Linked DNA regions of Homo sapiens: region 1 is linked to region 2. A link means that fine-mapping ties the variant in region 2 to the expression of a gene that starts in the linked region. Tissue or cell type: pancreas. Region 2 holds a variant in brackets; the other region holds the start of a gene. All regions are shown on one strand. Distances are from middle to middle.

Region 1 (5,129 bases), 100 kb before region 2:
CATTGTAAAACCTAATGCCTAAAATTGACAGGCTAATCCTAAAATTCATCTGGAAATGCAAGGAACCCAGGGCAGTCAAAATAATCCTGAAAAAGAAGGAAAAAGCTAGAGGACTCATACTTCCTGATTCCAAATTTGCTATACAAAACAAATTTGTAATCCAAACAACAGCAATCCAAACTGTGTGTTACTGGCTGTCGTAAGGGAAGACAATGGAATAGAATTGAAAATACAGAAATGAATCCATACATTTCTGGTCGATTGATATTTGACAATGGTACCACAATTCAACGGGGAAAGATGAACCTTTTCAACAAATGGTACTGGGACAACTGGATACACAATTGCAAAAGAATGAAGTTATACCTTTCCCTTGCACCATACACAAAAATTAACTTCAAATGGATCATAGAACTAAACAGAAGAAGTAAAACTATAAAACCCTTACAAGAAAACAAGAAAAAAGGCGTAATTTTTGGGTTAGGCAAATAATTTTTGGGTTAGATGCAATAAAAGCACAAGTAATAGAAAAAAATAGATAAGATGGACTTCACCAAGACTTCACGAGAAATAAAAACTTATGAGTTACTTCAAAGAGCAGCATCAAGAAAATGAAAAGGCAGGCCACAGAATGGGAGAAAATGTTTGCACATTATGTATCAGATAAGGTGTGTATCCAGAATATTAAAAAAAAAAAAACTCTTACAACTCAATTATAAAAAAAGACAACCCAATTTTTAAATGGGCAATTAATCTAAATAGACATTTCTCCAAAGAAAATATAAAAATAGGCAATAAGCACATTAACTGTGATGTTAAGCATCAAAGAAACGCAAATCGAACCACAATAAAATATTAATACTACTTCACGTTCACTCACTATATTATAATAAAAAGGACAAATAAGTGTTCGTGAGCATGTGGAGAGGAACCCTCAGATATTGCTGGTGGGATTGTAAAATGCTACAACCACTTCAGAATAGTATGGCAGTTCCTCAAAATGTTAAACATAGAGCTACGATTTGACCCAGGAATCCCATTCCCAAAAGAAATGAAAACATATGTTCACACAAAAACTTGTACAAAAATGTTCATGCAGCATTATTCATAACCCAAAAGTGGGAACAACCAGATGTCCATCACTGATTGGATAAATATTAATAAAATGTGGAATGGAATATTATTTGACCATAAAAAGGAATTAGTAGTGATACATGCTACATCATGGATAAACTTTGAGAACATTATGCTAAGTGAAAGAAACTGGTCACCATGGCCCCATTTATAGGATATGTCCAGACTAGACAAATGCAGAGAGGCAGAAAATACATTAGTTGCCTAGGCCTGGGGCAGGGGGAAAATGGGGAGTGACTGCTAATGGGTCTAGGGATTCTTTCTGGGATAACGAAATTGTTGTAAAACTGATATGGTGATGTTTACACAACTCTATGAACATATGAAAAAACCTCTGAATTGTACTACACTTTAAATGAGTGTATTGGTACGGAAATGTGAACTCAATAAAGCTGTTTAAAAAACAAAACACCTAAGGTCTAGTATATACGTTCTTTGTGGAAAACAAGGTACATTCAAGACAAATAAATAACTATGAACTGATCTGATTACTAACCAAGACCATGCTTGAGGCACTTAGAATTAAGAATTTAACATACATTCCTTACTAGCTAAAAGATTACCCCTTTAAATATGTCTAAATCTCAACGAAAATGGACCTGCAGTACTTGCAACTGTCAGGGCATAAAATGGGATTCACGAAAGATACCTGAGTAAACACGTTCCTTTCCTGTACATGGCTGAACTGTACTTCCCATTACAAAAAAAAAAACAATAACTGCAGAAAAATACTCCACCGGGAGCCGGAGAAATTCTCAAAGAAGAATCTAATACTGAGCTAAGACAAGGGGTGGAAAGAATGAGGAAGGGGAAGGAGCACAGAGTAGGGGGAGGTCTCCATGCATTTAAGCCCAAGGAGTCCAGTTACATTAAATCCAACTTTTAAACGCTTTGTGAACAGGCCCAGAGGCAAAGTCCTGGGCGCAAACCCACGAGCCGAGCTGCGAGGCTGAGAGGAAGTGCTAGTCCAGCCCAACCCCGCACTGGATTTGGTGTGGAAACCGTCAGAGGTAAAAGGGATCGCTCAGATGGGGGGCCCGCGGTGAGGGCAGGAGGCAAAACCCCACCGCCCGGCGCTCCCAGCCAGCGCGCAGCGGGAGGCGGCTGTGCCGCGGGCCCGTCCTTCGCGTCCGAGCTGCCGCGCACGCCCCGCGCGGAGCGCGGCACCGGGAGCCTCCGGTGGGGCTGGGTCCCGTCTCCCGCCCCATCCGGCGCTTTGTCCCAGCCCCGGTGGCCGGCGGCCCCGCTGCGGGCCCCCGGGCCGCGGTGACAGCCCCCGTCCCCATAGGGCTGCGAGCCCGGGAGTCCCTATAGGCTGGCGACCGGTCGCCCGCCGGACCTCACCCAGGCGGGACGCGGCAGGAGGACGCTCGCCCTGCCGGAGGGGCCGCCGCCGCCGCCCGAAGCGCACGCAGGCCAAGCTCAGGCGCCAAAAGCCTTGGACTTCGAAACACACGACTTCCAACATCCTAAGCTTACCCAAAAATTCTCGACGAAATACGCCATGACCATCGTGCCGCCGCCGCGCCGGGTTCCGCGTCCGCGCCCGCCCGCCGCTGTGTAAACACGGCCCGGCCCCCACAGCACCCCCGCCTTTCGCCGCCGCCGCCTTCTTCCCAGAGACCGGCCCGCACCTTCCAGGGCGCATGCGCCACCTAGCGGCTGCCGCAGCTGGGCGAGCACTTAGACGCCACGGCCACGGTGTGCGCATGCGCCCTGTCCCCATTCTCGGGTGTTGGTAGATCTCTCTGCATCCCGGGCGCGGCTGGGTTGAGTGTTCTCTTAGGAATGGTGGAGAACTGGGTCCTTGAGGAGTCACCGGGGAGACTGCTCGCACTGTTTGTGGTGCGACGGGCACTGGCCCAGGGACAGAGGGAAGAGAAGGGCCAGCCAGCGGCAGTGGAGTCGGCAGGCTGGCTGCCCACTCGCTTTCTCTCCTCACAAGACTCGCTTCCCCGGCCTTCGAGGATCTCGAACGGACTATAGTCTGGACTCGCTGGGCTGGAGGAAACTTGGCCGCTGGCCACCCGGAGGAGACTGAGAAGCCTTTGGTCAACAGGGCGCCTTTCCTTGAACCAAAACAAAACTTTCCGAAGCCGGAAAGGAAACGCCCAGTGTCGCCTGAGAGCCCTGGAGCTGCGCGAGACCCAGGCACTGAGTGCGGCCTCGGCCTCTGACCTCTAACACGCCGGGAACAAACCAGCTGGGGCGGCCCGCAGGCCTGCGGGAGCGGAATGTGACCCGAAACCGACGGACTTCCTGACCCATAGTCCATAGTTCTCTTCAGCAACTTGAACATTTTGGAAAAAGAAACAAGTCTTAACATGCCACGACCTAATGGAAAAACTAAATCCCCTTCCTACACCTTGCTTTCCAAAAGTTAAAAAAAAATAGTTAAACGCTATTAGAGGTCTCAAGTTCACTGTCACCAGATCAGCTAGGTCCAGAATCTTCAGTTCTTGAAGCCAAGCCCTACAAATAGATTTATTGTAGCATATCACACCTCTTCAGGTGACTTAAAACAATGAGAATTCATGAGAAATTATCTTCATCCTCAAGTAAAAATCATGAGGTGCCTTTCACATGGATGAAATTGTAAGTGCTTGTTGAACAAGGAATAATTGGATAATGGTATTGTGGTCATACTTTTTAAGAATATCTGTTAGAAAGATATAGGATGCAGAACATCTAGGATTTGCTGAAAGTCATTTATTATGGATAGGGGTATGAGTAAGGTCATAGATGAAAAGGGATGAAACAAGATTGGCCATAGTTGCTCTATTTTTGTGTATCTTGTTTCTTTATTTTGTTTCTTTAAAAAGTCCTCATATCACTGACATTTACACTTAGTTTTAGGGAAAGTCAAATTTAGAAATAAGCTACAGCTCTCTAAGCTATCGGTCTAACTGGATTTTTCTCGATGCTGAAGAACTTTTTAAAAAATTCAGCCATCTAGGTCACACAGCAAATACATTTGGCATTAAATTCCTAGTATCACTAAAGTACTCCCTCCCACCGCCGCGCCCCCCCCCTTCCCCCCGCACCCTTAGACCTGGGCAAGAGAGACTTCTATCCTGGACTCCATGCTTTAAAGGAACTTACATATCACACACACACATTAATTTAAAAAAAAATAGGTGCCCCTGCCGCTTGTGATCTGATACTGAACACTGGCTCATAACCATAAATTCCCTCTCCCAGTGAAGAACACTATTCAGGCCCCAGGAAAACTCTTCTTCCTATCTTTTGTCTTCTGTCCTCAAAACAAACGGTGAACTCCAAAAGCAGTGAAAATTTGTACATAGCATGGCTGCCCATTTCAGAGACTGCTTTGGAGTCAGAATTTGAGCAGCAGAAATGCTTAGGTAAGAGAGAAGACAAATTAACTTGTCAAATCCTTCATCTCAGCTTGAATGCTATAGATTCCTGCATGACAAAGTATTGTTTCTCAGTAGTATCAAGCATACATTTTCCTTTTGTTAGTGTTCCAATGTGTGGCTATTACCTACAGACAATTTAGTATAGTATTCACAATAGTTACTGGCCTTCATTCGCATTCTTCTGCTCCCCTTAAATTTAGGAGTAGATCTGGAATGAAAATAAGTATTCTGAGTATTTCAGGTATTTGCAAGGTTCATTAGGGCCGAAACACCATATCCTGTAATTGCCTGATGTTTAAGTTGTGGAACTTTATAGTAAACAGTGATTAAGGTGACTAAATTTCAGACAAGACTGTGTAGTATAGGAAGAGCGTGGATGGTATCAGCCTCCTTCTGCACTCTCAAGTGAGGTTTCCAGGGATGAACATACATTCTGGCAGAGCATAGATAAGCTCCTGAGTGGGTAGTGCTGGGTGGGGTTACAGGCATGAGCCACCGAGCTTATATGCGTTAAAGTGTTTGTGCCACACTCTCTTAGACTTTGCTTATCAAAATGTATTTCATTTTGAAATTATTAAAAACCAACATAGATAACAACAGTGTACAAGTCACTGC
Region 2 (5,218 bases):
CTCCAGTGTCAAAAAAATATAATATTGAAAAATTAAGTGGACAAAGAATATATAAGACCTTCATGTAACAAATATAATTGCTGTTAATTTATATCATGTTTTTCATTTGCCTCTGAACTTAAAAGCAAAAAAATACCTCCAAAAACATTTAAAAAGAGTTTTCTTAAAATAAGTTTAATCCATAGATAGTATTTACAAATTTTCAAAAAGCTACTTAATACTAGTAGAACATAACTGACGGCTTTACCAGTTGGCATCAACACCAACAATATTAGCAATAGTTAACATCTTCGAAATGCTTATGATTTATTAAACATTGCTAAGTGCTTTCCAAGTGGCACTGCACTTAATCCTTACAACTTCATGAGGCAGGTATTATTCACCCCATTGCACAAGTGAAGAAACTAAGGACTTTGAATCATTCTTCAGTATTACCCCCACTCAAAGGGCTATAAGATGAAGAGCTGGCATGTTGAACAGAATGTTATTGTAAAACCATTGTTTTACCCGTCTTATTAAAAAATAATATATCCCAAGCTTGTTCTAGTTAGTATGATGTTCCCAAACTCTGAATGGCACTGAAATCTTCAAGAGTGAAGCAACATGTAGAGGCAAAAAGAGCAGTTTCTCTGCACACAAACTTCATTCAGGTCATCACAGCACTATAAAACCTTGTATGTCATCATTTAAAAACTACTTTCCATTTTCAATTACAACCCATTGCGAGACTCCGTCTCAAACCAAAACAAAACAAACAAAAATACCTTTAAATTCTCTTAAAAGTTAAAAACTGCCATGAAATAAATGAAGCCAGATATTTAACTTCTTTAAGCAATAAACTTGCCTTAAATTACCTGTTAATAATTCAGCCATATAATTATTTTAAATGGCATGACTTTGTTTACGAGAAATATAGTATATTGTTTTTACCATAAAGGTTACAAGATGAAGAATTTTAATAAACCACAACATGAGGTGAAACAATTCAATATTAAAAGTATATACTCTCTTAAAATCCATTTAAAAAATTCAACGACTAACGATTTCCTTTGTTTTACAAAAATTAAGACTACTTCAGTGTACCCTCAATTTGTTCATTTGTAAAGTGAGATAATTAGAGCAGCTGATCTGAGATCTCTTACAGATCAAAAATTTTACTCTACAATTCAGTGATAAGATTACTACATAAGCATTTTCATTTAAGATGTTACTTGTATTGCTGCTTTAATATGAACAGCCATGATGCAAAGATTTTTTTAAAATGGAAAACTACATGCAGCAAACTTGTGTCCCAATCTTCCCAGGGAAAAAAAAAAATGCATAAACACAAGAAGAAATATCAAGTGTTACACCAACGTAAAACTACTGCATCCTCAGAGAAACTGCATAATGAACATAAGAAACACATTTTAGGGTCAAGAAAATCTGAATAAAATCCTTTCCAACATTTTATGGTTTTGTAATTAATGTCTTTGTGGAAGCAATGACTTCCAAACCCTCTTGCCACTACTTAACAAGTTGTGTGTTTGTGTTTTTTTAAGTACTTCTGAAGCACTTAAGTACACTGGAGTGCAGTGGCACGATCACAGCTCACTGTAGCCTTGACCTCCTGAGCTCAGGTGATCCTCCCACCTCAGCCTCCTGAGTAGCGGGACCACAGGTGTGTGCCACTATGCCAGCTAATTTTTACAGAGATGGAGTTTCACCATTCACTATGTTGCTGATCTTGAACTCCTTGCCTGAAGCAATCTTCCTGCTTTGGCCTCTCAAAGTGCTGGGATTACAGGCGTGAGCCACCTTGCCTGGCCTGAGGTATCCTTATATCCCAAGAAAGAGCCACCTTGCCTGGCCTGAAGGAAGTATCCTTATATCCCAAGAAAGCTGTACTCAAGAGTATAATATTGTAACAATCCTAATATTTGGAATGTAGGATAAGAACATGAGAGTGGACAGCTTAGTGAAAATAAATTTAAAAATTTCAAATAAAACAATTAGATTTAAAAAATCCATTTATAAATATCTTAGTATAAGAAACAAACAGGTTGATCACAAACTGTCAGAAAAATTTCTATATTAAGAAGCAATGTATCGCAAATATCAAACTAGGAATATTAATTGTTGAAATAATTCTTAGTTTCTTAAAACCTAGACTTAAGAGTTCTAAATTTTCTATTGTGTCCTTCATTCACAAATTAAAATCCCCCAAATTAACTACAAAATCAACTGAAAATAATTCAAAAGAAATCACCGTGCAAGAATTATGAAAATCTGAATACAAATCAGTGAGTTTTTACTACACAATAACACTATTAACCTGTCAGAATTTGGAGCTGAAACTTTACAGATGGTCTGGTTGTCTAAACCTTGTTATTTCCCAATTCCAAGTGCAGTGATTTTATTAATTGCACCATGGCTTCTAAAACACTAATCACTGAATAGGGTACAGCGCTTTCATTTAGAGGCCAATCAGTTGCGCAATAAATATTTAATTGACTTCTATGTGTCCACAATGTTTCAGGGAGGGAATACCCAAATAATGCTATGAGAAACAACTCTCACTACAACGTAAGCTCCTTGAGGGCAGTGATTTTTGTCTGTTTTGTTCACCTTTCTCTCCTGAGCCTGTAAATTGCATGGCAGAGATGGCGCTCCATAAATATTTATGAAATAATGTCTAGTGGGATGCGTTACATATTATTAGAAATAATCAAATGACCATGTTATTTAAAAATCAGACTACTCAGGCTTTAAACTGTCATAGAAATCATTTAAATTTAAAATTAAGAGTCATGAAAAAGTTTCATGTAGACTTTTAGAAGTTTTTTAAAAAGTTACAAAAGTCTACTTATCAATAGAATGATCCCACTTTTTGCTAAATAATTTTAAAATAGTATGTGACCATATAAGAGCAGAGAAGGATATAATTGAAGAGATCAACAATAATCATCTCTGGAAGATGG[G/C]ATAAATAATTTTTCATTTTGATTATATGACCTTTCAATTTTTTTCTACAAAAAACACACATATTCAGTTATTAAAACCTACATTCAATCTTTGTATTACAACCTTTGTTATATCCATCTATATGCATGAAAGCAAAACATTAAAGTAGACTTTGCAACAAGTTTTTCATCTGCAAAGAATTAAGTAACTTATTATACAAACACCCTATTAAAAATGAATGCTGGCTGGGCACAGTGGCTCACACCTGCAATCCGAGCACTTTGGGAGACTGCGGCAGGCGAATCCCCAGAGGCCAGGAGTTCAAGGTTAGCCTGGCCAACAAGGCAAAACTCTGTCTCTACTAAAAATACAAAAAAATTAGCTGGATGTGATGGCGCATGCCTGTAATCCCGGCTACTAGGGAGGTTTGGCATGAGCATTGCTTGAACCCGGGAGGCAGATATTGTAGTGAGCCAAGATCGCACCACTGCACTCCAGCCTGGGTGATAGAGTGAGACTCTGTCTGTATATACATTAAAAAAAAGGAATTCTTATTAAACATGTAAATACTGAGTGGTATTAACTAAGACTGTTTATCCCACATCTATAAAGCACAAGGTTACTACAAAATGAAATCCTTTGAAATGAATAATTCTCAGTACATTTAAACAGGTCTTAAAGAAACTTTAAATAGTTATCAATACAAATCCTACTTACCTTCAGATTTTAATTTTGTAAGAACAAAAATCAAGTAGTTGTTAAAGTCTGGATACTGATTAAGTTGTTCCAGTTTCTAGAACAAACAGTAGTTAAGGAAACTTCTCTGTGTAATCTCAGGAAGAAATTAAGCATTTTAAATCTAAAAATCAAGGATCTCTTTGGTGGTATTTTCAGTCCTGCGTTTTTTTTTTAAACTAAGAATAAGGATATCTTACTAAATCTATCAACATCTATTTCAAAAACACGCTAGTGCTTGCTAAACCTCTTAGGTGCTTTATGGCTGAAATGTATCAATTACATGCAATACAACATAAGAAAGTTCCAGCTTCAGCATGCTCAATATAGCAAAAAATATTCAAAAAAATTCTTGGATTTCAACTTTAAACCATTCTAAATAGAAAGGTATTTAAGCATAAAATGACAAAAATAAAAGCATTCCAAATGAAAACAAGTCTTTCAGAGTTGAAGATCATTTAGAGAAATTAACTTTATAGAATAACTTTTAAAAAAAAGATACTTCTCAGACTCATTTGTTCTTTAGAATCCAAAAAGATAAAGTGCCATTTATGCACAAGGCTATATATCTTATTATAAAGTCAGCATTATGAGATTATTGCACTACAGCTGTACAATTCTTCCCCTCATCCCCAAGATGCAACATTTTTAGTGATACCAATTTGCAGGTATTTCATCGCTGTCGGGAGGCAGCTGTGACAAAATGCTCTATTACATCTTTCTTCAAGCCCTGACTCCCAACCCCTAACTAACATGCTTCCCAATTGTGTTTTACTACACAGAAAGATTAAAATGTTTTGTCACCCAACAAATCTAAATTTCTGATTAAATCCATGAATCAAACTCCAGTAACACTTTATTAGCTATTTATTACATATTTGAATACCCTCAATGTTTATGGGTCAGAAAGTAAACGAACCAACAACATAGTCTCTAGTAAAACTGCAAGGTGTAACTACTTTCTCCAACCAAGACAGTAATTCTTGTTTTAGTGAATGGCCCAGATTAACAACAAGCTGATATGCCAATGAATTTTTCAAAACTATTTCCTGATAAAGTTTACCTTTTTACAACTTAAGCTACATCTCTTTATCCTATTATAGCGGTCTTTCAAAAAGTACTCAAAAGCCTATACAAAATAATAATTAAATATATTATCTTCTTAGGAGAAACAAAATAAGGCACTCTGAAACAGCAGTATGTATTCTTAGCTAAAGTAGTTTTCCTCTCACAGCAACAGAAAGTTGTTCTTTCTCAGAGGACATACTAAGTTCCAGGCACACAGAATAAACTGTAAATTGACTACTTGCCCAAGCACGGTACTAAGCATTTATGAGGTACCTAATAAATGTAGACTAAAACAAGAAATTATGATATATGGTGCCACAGAATAACTACAATGCAGGATTGGGCTTAGCTAATTTAAGAAACTAGTAACTGTATCATATAATACCTGCAATTAATCAACTATCAACTTCTATCATCCCTAGAACTATGACAACACAAATTAAGACTGAGCCATAGCACTGTTTACAAGATACAA

Evidence for each region. PIP is the estimated chance that this variant, and not a neighbour inherited with it, causes the effect.
Region 1: FCHO2 starts here. The variant in region 2 is fine-mapped to the expression of FCHO2 in pancreas (GTEx, PIP 0.95).

The regions. Positions count from the first base shown.
Region 1 is chr5:72,953,614-72,958,742 of GRCh38, reverse strand. It overlaps FCHO2 (FCH and mu domain containing endocytic adaptor 2), which reads right to left and starts at 2,702. Exons shown (of 26, transcript NM_138782.3): 1 at 2,614-2,702. The coding sequence starts at 2,646. FCHO2-DT (FCHO2 divergent transcript) reads left to right here and starts at 2,859. Exons shown (of 2, transcript NR_186392.1): 1 at 2,859-3,729. RefSeq lists a silencer at 2,110-2,809.
Region 2 is chr5:72,849,759-72,854,976 of GRCh38, reverse strand. It overlaps TNPO1 (transportin 1), which reads right to left. Exons shown (of 25, transcript NM_002270.4): 3 at 3,658-3,733. Among named protein-coding and RNA genes, the nearest start is that of MIR4804, 26 kb to the left of the region's middle. The variant G/C (reference allele first, on the strand shown) is at 2,961.